3 linked regions of the Homo sapiens genome follow. The protein of the gene in region 3 purifies or fractionates together with the protein of the main gene of each other region. This does not show direct contact. Each region holds a gene or a part of one and is shown on either strand. Other genes may lie near its edges. The genes, in order: SPSB4, CLEC4A and PCDHB2.

The links.
Region 1: the proteins of PCDHB2 (region 3) and SPSB4 purify together in Homo sapiens (co-immunoprecipitation; one large-scale study listed by IntAct). This does not show direct contact.
Region 2: the proteins of PCDHB2 (region 3) and CLEC4A purify together in Homo sapiens (co-immunoprecipitation; one large-scale study listed by IntAct). This does not show direct contact.

The regions. Positions count from the first base shown.
Region 1 is NC_000003.12:141,061,272-141,064,928, reverse strand, and holds part of SPSB4 (SPRY domain-containing SOCS box protein 4), read right to left. Parts: intron 1-3,657. UniProt on the Homo sapiens protein: Substrate recognition component of a SCF-like ECS (Elongin BC-CUL2/5-SOCS-box protein) E3 ubiquitin-protein ligase complex which mediates the ubiquitination and subsequent proteasomal degradation of target proteins.
Region 2 is NC_000012.12:8,136,252-8,139,154, reverse strand, and holds the end of CLEC4A (C-type lectin domain family 4 member A), read right to left. Parts: intron 2,368-2,903; coding exon 2,252-2,367; intron 1,016-2,251; coding exon 868-1,015; 3' UTR 548-867; downstream 1-547. UniProt on the Homo sapiens protein: C-type lectin receptor that binds carbohydrates mannose and fucose but also weakly interacts with N-acetylglucosamine (GlcNAc) in a Ca(2+)-dependent manner. Involved in regulating immune reactivity.
Region 3 is NC_000005.10:141,092,958-141,096,714, reverse strand, and holds the start of PCDHB2 (protocadherin beta-2 precursor), read right to left. Parts: upstream 2,101-3,757; 5' UTR 1,925-2,100; coding exon 1-1,924. UniProt on the Homo sapiens protein: Potential calcium-dependent cell-adhesion protein. May be involved in the establishment and maintenance of specific neuronal connections in the brain.

The sequences.
Region 1 (3,657 bases), on a different chromosome or scaffold from region 3:
TAAATACCATTAACAGCACTGACCCCAGACTGCCTTCCCTGAGACAGGATCCTGGTTTTCATGGAGAAGGAATTGGCCACCATCACTAGGAAACCAGACAGAACCCAAGGAGCTCGGACTACTTGGACGGGCCCTGGGTATGGAGAGAGATGGAGAGCCAAGCCCTGTCCAGAGCAGAGGCGTGTGCCCTCCCCTCCCTGGCCTGAGAGCTGCTGGGCCTAGAACAACTTCTCCTGAGCCAGATGAGGAGATGGATGGGTGTTTTTCATGCCCTGCCCTCCCCAGCCTCAACCTCCCACCCAGACAGTGGTACACCCCTAGCCAAAGTCCAGGTAGGGACGAAAAGAACTCTGCTGCCACACAGCACAGACAAGTATCCTGTGGGTTTTTCACCATTCCATTTTATTCTTAACTCTCATACTCTTCCCTCTCTATTGTCAGATCCCAGCTTCAGCAGATGTTGACCCTATTCCGAGAGCTCTGGCTAATGTTCAATCTGAGGGAATACCAGAACACATAACAATTTGCAACACTAGGCAGTTTTAAGATAGCAGAATAAAGTTACTCCTTTTCATATCCGAAATCACCCAAAATCCAGGAGAAAAAAAGAAATGCAAACTCCTTCTTCAGCAAACTAGAACACATTTATAACCTGAAACACAGCTTATAAGGAAAGGCTGCCCAAAACAGGTAAGGGCTACCAAAAGCAGTGAAGATCAAAAATACTGTGAGAAAACACCTAGAGAAGACACCTGTGGTGGCAGATCTCAGACAAAGCTGGCAGAGCCAGCCAGGAGCTGGCATTCCCTGAAGGAAAAAACTAATGATCCCTTATCAGAAAAAATGGGAACAGGGCATGTGGTCTGGTAGTGGGAGCTGCCTCCTACACCCTGGGGGAAGAGGAGGGCAGGGCCAACAGAGGAAACCACAGACCCGCCATCTTCACAGGAAGCAGTGTGTTGGCAAGGCAGAGTGAGAGGAGGGCTCTGAATTGGGAGAAGCCCACAGCTGCAGAACTCTGCTGACAGAGTAGAAGCAAAGACTAAAGGAAGTCACTACAACAACCCTGTGAACAAAGTTCCTGGGAACCAGGGAGCAATCCTGCCCTCTTCTTGGTACCTCCTCCACATGTGTCTCCTGCAAAATGCTGATCCAAGAAGGTTTACCTCTTTCAAAGAGGAACCAGCACAGGATATAGTCAAAGATGCTATAGAAGAAAGAAAGGAATAAACGAACAGGACAAAACATGGCAAACCAAGCAAACTCACCTGAAAAAAGCTGCCACAAAGCAGATAAAAATGGGAACCAAATTTGTAAACTAATTTTGTGATTGATTATTTCAGAAGGGAGACACCTAGCATGGTCTCAACAAAAGATTAAATCCATTTTGGCTAGTTATAAAGGTAACCTCCAGAACTAAAAATAAAAATACACATCTTGCAGATACAAACCTTGAACATAATACAAAATAAAACAGATCATATACTGAAAGATTTTGTTAGAAAGCAAGAGAGGCAAAAAGGCATAAAAGCATGAAATATGATAGTAAAACTAAGACCGAAATATTGACCATGTCATTAAATGGCCATAGTAAACTGCTAAAAAAAGATTATAAGACTGGGGAAAAACACAAAACCCCCAACCATATGCTACATATAAGAGACATTCCCCAAAGCAAAGTGATTTAACAATTTTGAAAATAAAGGAAGGGCAAACACATAACAGGGAAGTGTGAACTCAAACTAAGCAGGCACTGTAATCTTAATATTAGGCAAGTAAAGTTGATTTCAGGACAAAAGGTTTTAAGTGAGACAAGAATACTTAATAATAATAAAGAATGCGATCCACAATTGAAGACCGAACTCACCAAATAGCACCAAAATTCAGAGCAAAAGCTAGAGGAAATATAAGGAGGGGCCTTAGACAGACACACATCAGAGGCATGTAATTTTAATTTCCCTCTTCTAGCTCATGATGGACCAGTGGACCAAAATTAAGTAAAGACATAGAAAAACCAAATTACATAATTAATAAGACAGATCTAACTAATGTGTTCATCAAATTCTATACCTTGAAAACAAAGAATGCATGTTCTTTTCAAGTGTTCATGGAATGATCAAAAAAATTTTCCTGTATATTAGGTCACAAACAAAACTTCAAAAAAAGCAAAAATAATACAGTATCTGATAACACAGAAGGAAAACTAGAAATTAATCACAAAATTATAGATCACAAAATCCTATCACTTAGGCATTTTAAAAAATTCTTTAAACAACTTGACCCCAACTCAGATCAAAAAAGAAATCCATATAGAAATTGCAGAATATCTGGAATACAACAATAACAAAAAGCATTCCACATACTAGAACCTGCGGGGTGCCTCTACAGCAGTTCTCAGAGGAAATCATGGCTGATATATTTATGCTATTAAATTTTAAAAAATGAATGGAGCATAATAAAATAGGGAAATAATAGAACTAAGCAAAAACTAAAGAGATGGTTCTTTGGGAAAAACTACCACAAAAACAAAACAAAATCAATAAAACATATAAACTATTAAAGCTAATCATGTAATGTATCATATTATATTATGTTATATTATTATATTACTATTATATTAATCTATCATGTTGATAGTGTGTACCCTTGATATGATATAATGAAATCTTCCTTTGGGTGTCTTCCCCAAAACCCATAACCTCACTCTAATCATGAGAAAAACAAAGGACAAATTCCATCTGGAGGCCATCCCACAAAATACCTGACCTAACCGGCAAGGTCATCGGAACCAAAGTCTGAGAAACCATCATAGTGAAGAGGGCCCTAAGGAGACCTAACAATTCCACATAATGTGGTATCCTGGATGGGATCTGGAACAGAAAAAGGATATTAGGGGCTGGGCTTGGTGGCTCACACCTGTAATCCCAGAACTTTGGGAGGCCAAGGCAGGTGGATCATTTGAGGTCAAGAGTTCAAGACTAGCCTGGCCAACATGGTGAAATGCTGTCTCTACTAAAAAAATAAAATTAGCCAGGTGTGGCGGCACACGCCTGTAGTCCCAGCTACTTTGGAGGCTGAGGTGGGAGGACTGCTTTAACCCAGGAGGTGGAGGTTGCAGTAAGCCAAGATCGTGCCACTGCACTCCAGCTTGGGTGACAGAGGGAGACTCCATCTCAAAAAAAAAAAAAAAGAAAGAAAGAAAAGGAAAGAAAAAGAAAGAAAGAGAAGAAAAAGGATATTAGGTAAAAACTGAAATCTGAGAAAAAAAGGAAATCTGAAAAAATATGTTAATAACAATTATTAATATTAATTATTAAAATAAGTTAATAATAATGTATCAATACTGGTTCATTAGTTGTGATAAATGTGCCATACTAATGTAAGATGCTAATAATTGGGGAAACTAGGGTGATAAATGGAGTGAGCATATGGGACCTCTCTGTACTATCTGTTTAGTTTTTCTTTAAATCTAAAACTATTCTGAAGAAATAAAGCTCATTAATTAGAAAAGGTTAAATAAATGTCTAAATTTTAGAGAATACAAAAAAAGGACAAAAACTAGAATTCACCTCTTTCTCCTATCTCATTAACCAGATATAAACATTGTCAGCTTTTGGAGGAATTTTGCTTTATTCTCTCTTTTTTTTTGGTCTATAA
Region 2 (2,903 bases), on a different chromosome or scaffold from region 3:
AGAATGACAAATACTGTACAATTCTACTTATATGTAGAATCTTAAAAAGTCAATCCATAGAAACAGAGGGTAAAATGATGGTTGTGAGGGAATGGAGGGCAGTGGAGAAAATCAGGCAATGTTGGTCAAAGGGTACAAATTTTCAGTTCTAAGATGACGAAGTTCTAGAGATCTAATGTGCTGGATGGTGACTATAGTTAATAATGATGCATTGCACACTTGAAATTTTTTGGGGAGTAGATCTTGCTTTGTGTTTGTTGATACCAATGGACAGAATGGAGTAGATCTTAAACGTTCTCACTACACACAAGATTGTTAACTATGTAAGATAATGGGTGTGGGTTAAGTAACTTGATTACGGTAATCATTTTACAATATATATGTATGTCAAATCACCACAGTGTAAACCTTAAATATATACAATTTTATTTGTCAGTGTATATATATATATTATAATATATATATAAAATATAATATATATATATGTCAGTATATATATACAATTATATATCAGTATAGTAGGGATGAAGAGAAAACCAGACAGGAGGAGACACCACATCATATAATTTTATTGGTAAATAATTCTTTAGCAACCAGATAAAAATTAAGAGAGACTCATGTTCTCTCCATGTGTGCACAATGGGGGCCTCCAGTACAGGCTCTGGCACATGAAAAAATGCTCAATAAATGCTCACTTTATGAAAAAGTGAATCAGTCAATGTACAGACCAATTCTCTCATAAGTAGAATAGTTGACAGACCACCTAAATTCTATGGACCTCCCTTACACATGAATAAGAAGAGCTTATTATCTATCCCTACAATGACAGATACCAATCCAACCACCTGTTCATGGAGAATGTTCAGTTCATAAGTGGATCTTCATCATCTCACAAACTGACCTTTGAGGACCAAGACAATTAACATCATTCCAGCCCCATCTTTTGGGTGATTTACGAAAATTTAGCACAACGCAGCGCTCATTGGGATCACTGGGCTCACGTGGATGCCAGAATCTGAAAGCGACAAAAAGGATGAGGGCATTTCTTCAAACAGAGCTTTGAAAAGGGTTAGAGACAGGGGTGAGGAGCGAGGGATGAATTTCATGGAACATAGGGTCAGATATGCCCAAATCCACCTTTCTGCTACTCATCATGCAGCTTCTCCTCCATCTGCATTTCCGGCATTTCCTTTGAAAACTGTGCCTATGTCACTCAATGTTCTCTACCTTACTGCTTTGAATATCCTCACCATAGATTTTCTAGAGGTTCTCTTCTATTTGTCCATCCTTATGTCCTGTTCCTATGGGTCCATCAACCTATAGGGTGTCCTTGTATGATGAAAAGATTTTACCCTGGTCCCACTTATCAATAGAGTTTTTTCCTTTTTTTAATGCACTGTTTTTAAAGTCTAGAGAACTAGTAAAATCTTTTGAATCTTCTACTTATCCTTGTTATTGGACAAGTAATTTAACTTCCCTGATTCTCAGTTTTTCTATCTAAAAAATAAGGACTAGAGTAATATCACTATTTATTTCATACAGTGGATATGAAGATCGAAGGTGGTAATCCAGTAAAGTATGTATTTTATGTAATTTATGTAATATATGTAAAGTATGTAATTTATGCAATTAAAGAATTACATAAATATGAGATATAAGATTATCAGAATTTAGCATTTTTGCTTCATAAGAAGCATTACATCTTCAGCCTGACTGGGTGTGGTGGCACATACTTGTCATCCTAGCAACTCAGAAGACTTGGGTGGGAGGATCAGTTGAGCCCAGGAATTCAAGGCTGCAGTGAGCCATGATTGCACCACTGCACTCCAGCCTGGTTGACAGAGTAAGACCCTGTCTCAAAAAAGAAAAAAAAAGCATTATTAAATCTTAATAATTGGTTATGATCTTAATCAACATGGGTTTTCACTATGTAGAGACAGGTAAATATACGGGTTAAAAGCACAGTAAGATCCACCTGATTTGAGAACAATTGTTGACACCACTGGGTGACCTTAGCTGAATTATCTACACTCTCCAAGCTCAATTTCCTCATATCTACAGTGGGAAAAATAACAATGTGTGCCTCATAGGGTTCTTGCGCAGATTAAATGAGATAATGAAATTATTTAACCTAGTACCCAAGAGCTAAAAGAAGAGTGAGCTATTTTACTTTTATAGCTGATAGCTAGAATACCCTAAGCTCTCTGCATGATCCAGGACCCAAGATTCTTTTATCTCATTCTATACTCACGTGGAACTTTCATTGTATGGTGTCTGATCAACCCATTGCCAATGTCGCTGACCTTCTGGATCTGAGAGCCCCACAAAATAAGCAGATTCTTCTTGCAGATTCTGGAAGATGAAATCCTGAGGGGGGAAAAGAAGGAGTCACAGCCTTTACAGTATTCAGCTTAAACTGAATTCTTAATACCTTAGAGAAACAAGAAGAAAAGGAGAGGATCCAGCAACAGCTGCATTAGAGCTCTACGTAGGAATGGGGATCTCTGGCTGAGCAGGGCAGAATCAAAGACATCGCTTGTAAGCATGATGTTCAGTACATACGGAAGGAATTTTTTTTTTTTTTTTTTTTTGAGATGGAGTCTCACTTTCTGTCCCAGGCTGGAGTGCAGTGGTGCAATCTTGGCTCACTGCACCTCTGCCTCCCAGGCTTAAGCGATTCTCATGCCTCAGCCTCCCCAGTAGCTGGGACTACAGGTGTGTGCCACCATGCCTGGCTAATTTTTGTATTTTTAGTAGAGGCTGGGTTTCACCATTTTGGCCAAGCTGGTCTTGAACTCCCGGCCTCAAGTGATCCGCCCGCCTTGGCCTCCCAAAGTGCTGGGATTACAGGCATGAGCTAGCATGCCCAGCCAGTATGGAAGCAATTTCTATGATCAGAATGA
Region 3 (3,757 bases):
GCCTCTGCTTGGCAGCGTCGCGCTCCCTCAGCAGCCTGGCGGTGCGCACCTCGCCATTGTGCGCCCACACGCCGAACAGCCCGGGCTCCGTGGCCTTGAGCAGCTGGTACGACAGCCAGGCGTTCTGGCCCGAGTCGCCGTCCACCGCCACCACCTTGGTCACCAGGTAGCCCGGCTCGGCCGCCCGGGGCACCAGCTCGGTGCAGGGCGCGGAGCCGTTCTGCAGCGGGTACAGCACGAAGGGCGAGTTGTCGTTGGCGTCCAGCACCAGCACGCGCACCAGCGCCTCGCTGCTCAACGCCGGGGAGCCGCGGTCTGCGGCGCCCACGCGGAACTCGAACGCCTGCAGGGCCTCGTAGTCCAGCGACTGGAGAGCGAACAGGTGGCCGTTGTCCGCGTTGATGGAGACCAGGGAGGCGAGGGGCAGGTGCGGGTCCTGGGGCGGCAGCAGCGAGTAGGTGACCTGGGCGTTGGTGCCCGAGTCTCTGTCTGTGGCGCTGACGCTGCCGATGTGCAGGGCGGGGCTGTTGTTCTCGCGGACGAACAGGGTGTAGGAGGTTTGGGTGAAGGCGGGGGCGTTGTCATTGACGTCGGAGACCAGCACGGTTATGTTGTGCTCGGTTTTCAGCCTGGGTGTCCCGAAGTCGGTGACGGTGATGGTGATGTTGTATTCGGATCTGGTCTCCCGGTCCAGGGCCGTGCTTATCACCAGAGTGTAAAAGTTCTCAACAGAAGGTTTCAAGAAAAAAGGAAGATCATCTTGGATGGAGCACACCATCCTTCCGTTGTCTCCGGAGTCAGGATCTGAAACGCTGAATACAGCAATGAGGGTGTCCTGCAAGTTTTCTGGGATCTGATTGATAAGTGTCGACATAGTTAGTTCCGGAGGATTGTCATTCAAATCCATCACTTGGACAAATACCACACAAGTTCCAGATAGGCCCCCACCATCTGTCGCCTGAATATTTACTGTGTATGTCTGGATGGATTCGAAATCCAGTTTCTGTCTTAAAAGCAGTTCTCCCGATTTTGCACTTAATCGAAACGTTTTGCGAATGTCTTCAGATGCTTGGGAAAATGCATAAGATATTTCTCCATTAGTTCCAATGTCTAAATCCCTGGCAGAGACGATGGCAACCTGGGATCCAACGGGGCTGTCCTCCGGGATCTGCACCTCATAGAGCAGCTTTGCAAACTCTGGGACGTTGTCATTGATGTCCACAACTTCAATCCGTACCAGGGCCGTGCCGGACCTGGGTGGACTCCCGCCATCTAGCGCTGTGAGGGTTAACCTGATCTCAGGCTGCTCCTCGCGATCCAGGGCTCTGTTCAGCACCAGCTGTGGTAATATTATGCCATCGAGACTGTCTTGTAAATTAAGATGAAAGTGGAAATTGGGACTGATTGTGTAATTTTGGAGACTGTTGGTTCCTACATCCAAGTCCTGGGCACGTTCTATTAAGAAAGTAGTTCCAGGAGTGATACTTTCTGGAATTTTCAAAAGTATTTCTTTGTCTAGGAAAACTGGGGAATGATCATTTACGTCCCTAATCCGTAGCTCCGCCTGAAAAAACTGCAAGGGATTTTCTAGTAACACCTGGAAAGGTAGGACACAGGGCTCTGTGGGGCCGCACAGCTCCTCCCGGTCCAATTTCTCATTTAACAACAAATCCCCGGTCTGCCTATCGAACTGCAAATGCATTTTTTTTCCTTTGGAAACGACCCTGGCCCCCCTCACAGCAAGTTCTCCTATCTCCAGCCCCAGGTCTTTTAACAAATTGGCCACAAAGGAGCCACTCTCCGTTTCCTCGGCCACTGAATAGTGCCTAGGCTGGCAACTAGCCTGAGCTATGCCCAGCAAAACAAAGAATATCAGGACTTGCCTTTGTTTCGGAACGCGCTCCTTCCCCTCTCCGGCCTCCATTGCTTTCTGGTCTCTCACCAAACGTGCTCCAGCTCTGGCTCACGTTGTCGCTAACTCTATCTCCCCGTATCTCGCTGATACTGGGATGAGTGGACAATCCTAGGGCCCGGATTTCCCGGAGCGACCGCCTTAGAAAGCCTCCTCTTCCTGCTTGCTGCTTCTTTAGCTGAGTATCTGGGTAAGGGAGCGTCGGCTGGGTGCTTTGTTTCTGCTACTTCTAAGGCTGCAGCGCCACCCCGCGTCTCTTCCGAGTATTTATTTTCTCCTAAACTTTAAGAAAATCCCAGTGCTTTCTTTCAGGCTGATGGCAATCGAAATTGAGTATTTTCAAGTAGTGTCTCTCAGTGTACCGAAGTCTTATTGGCGTTTCGAAAGGCTCTTCATTGCACCCATAGAGACAGGGCAAGAATAAATAAATCTTCACTTCCCTCACAAATCCAAGCTTTTTTTTTTTTTCAAACTGGAAAAAATAAATTTCAGAACCTGGAAGGGAGTGATCTCAGTCCTAGCATGCTTCGGAAAGAAGGCTTAGACTAAGAAAGTTCTATTTTTATTCAGAGTTTGGGCATGTGTGCAACTCAGTGGTGGTTAGATTACCATCATCACACTCAAACCCAGCTGAAAAACAGAGACCCAGGAAAAGCACAGAATCCAAATAAGAGTATTTTAATGGGCACTGAAATAGTCTCCTTACTCATATTTCTTTCTTTGCACTGCTCCCACTTCACATTTTCCTGAACTTTGATGTGTCTGAGCCTCATGAAACTCTCCAAGAGCAGCCAGATATTTCCTTATTGTAAATGTATCAATATTATTTTCCTTTCTAATGCCTAGGAGAACTTTCAACATAACCTCAATTCAATTACCACATCTAGCAAAGAGCAATTTCATAATATTAAATAGCCAGTAAATATTCCAGTTTCCCCAATTATCTTTAAAAATGTCTTTTCAGTGATGGTTTCTTCAATCTGCTTCCAAACAGGGTATATATGTCATTGTTTGTTGTTAGGTTTTTTAATTTTGTCTTTTTGTTTCTTTTTTAATGTTAATATAAAGAAGTTATCAAGCCACAGAATGACATGAAGGAAACTTAAATGCATATTTCTCAGTGAAAGAATCCAGTCTGAAAAGGCAATGATACTGTATAATTCAAATTACATGATACTCTGAAAAAGGCCAAATTATAGAGACATTTAAAAGACAAGTGATAGCTAGGAAGAAGAGGGAGGGGGATGAAGAGGTTAAACATGGGGTACTTTACGATACTACAATGGTAGATACATGACATTATGCCGTTGTCAAAATCCACAGAACTATACAACACAAAGAGTGAACACTAAACTATGAAATTTAGTTAATAATTTACCAGTATTGGCTCATCAATTGTAACAAATGTACCACAGTAATGCAAGATTTTGATAACAGGGAAACTTTGAGTGGGAGAAAATCGGTATGTGAGGGGAACTGTTTGTACTATTTGCTCAATTTTCTGTAAACTCTAAGGCTGCTTTAAAAAATAATTTTACTTTGGGAGGCCGAGGCAGGCAGATCACGAGGTCAAGAGATCAAGACCATCCTGGCCAACCTGGTGAAACCCCATCTCTACTAAAAATACAAAAAAAATGAGCCAGGCATGGTGATGGGTGCCTGTAATCCCAGCTACTTGGGAGGGTGAGGCAGGAGAATCACTTGAACCCGGGAGGCGGAGATTGCAGTGAGCTGAGATCATGCCATTGCACTCCAAGCCTGGTGACAAAGCGAGACTCCATCTCAAAATAATAATAATAATAATAAATATTAGGATGTGTCTCTAAAAGATCCATTGGGTTAAAA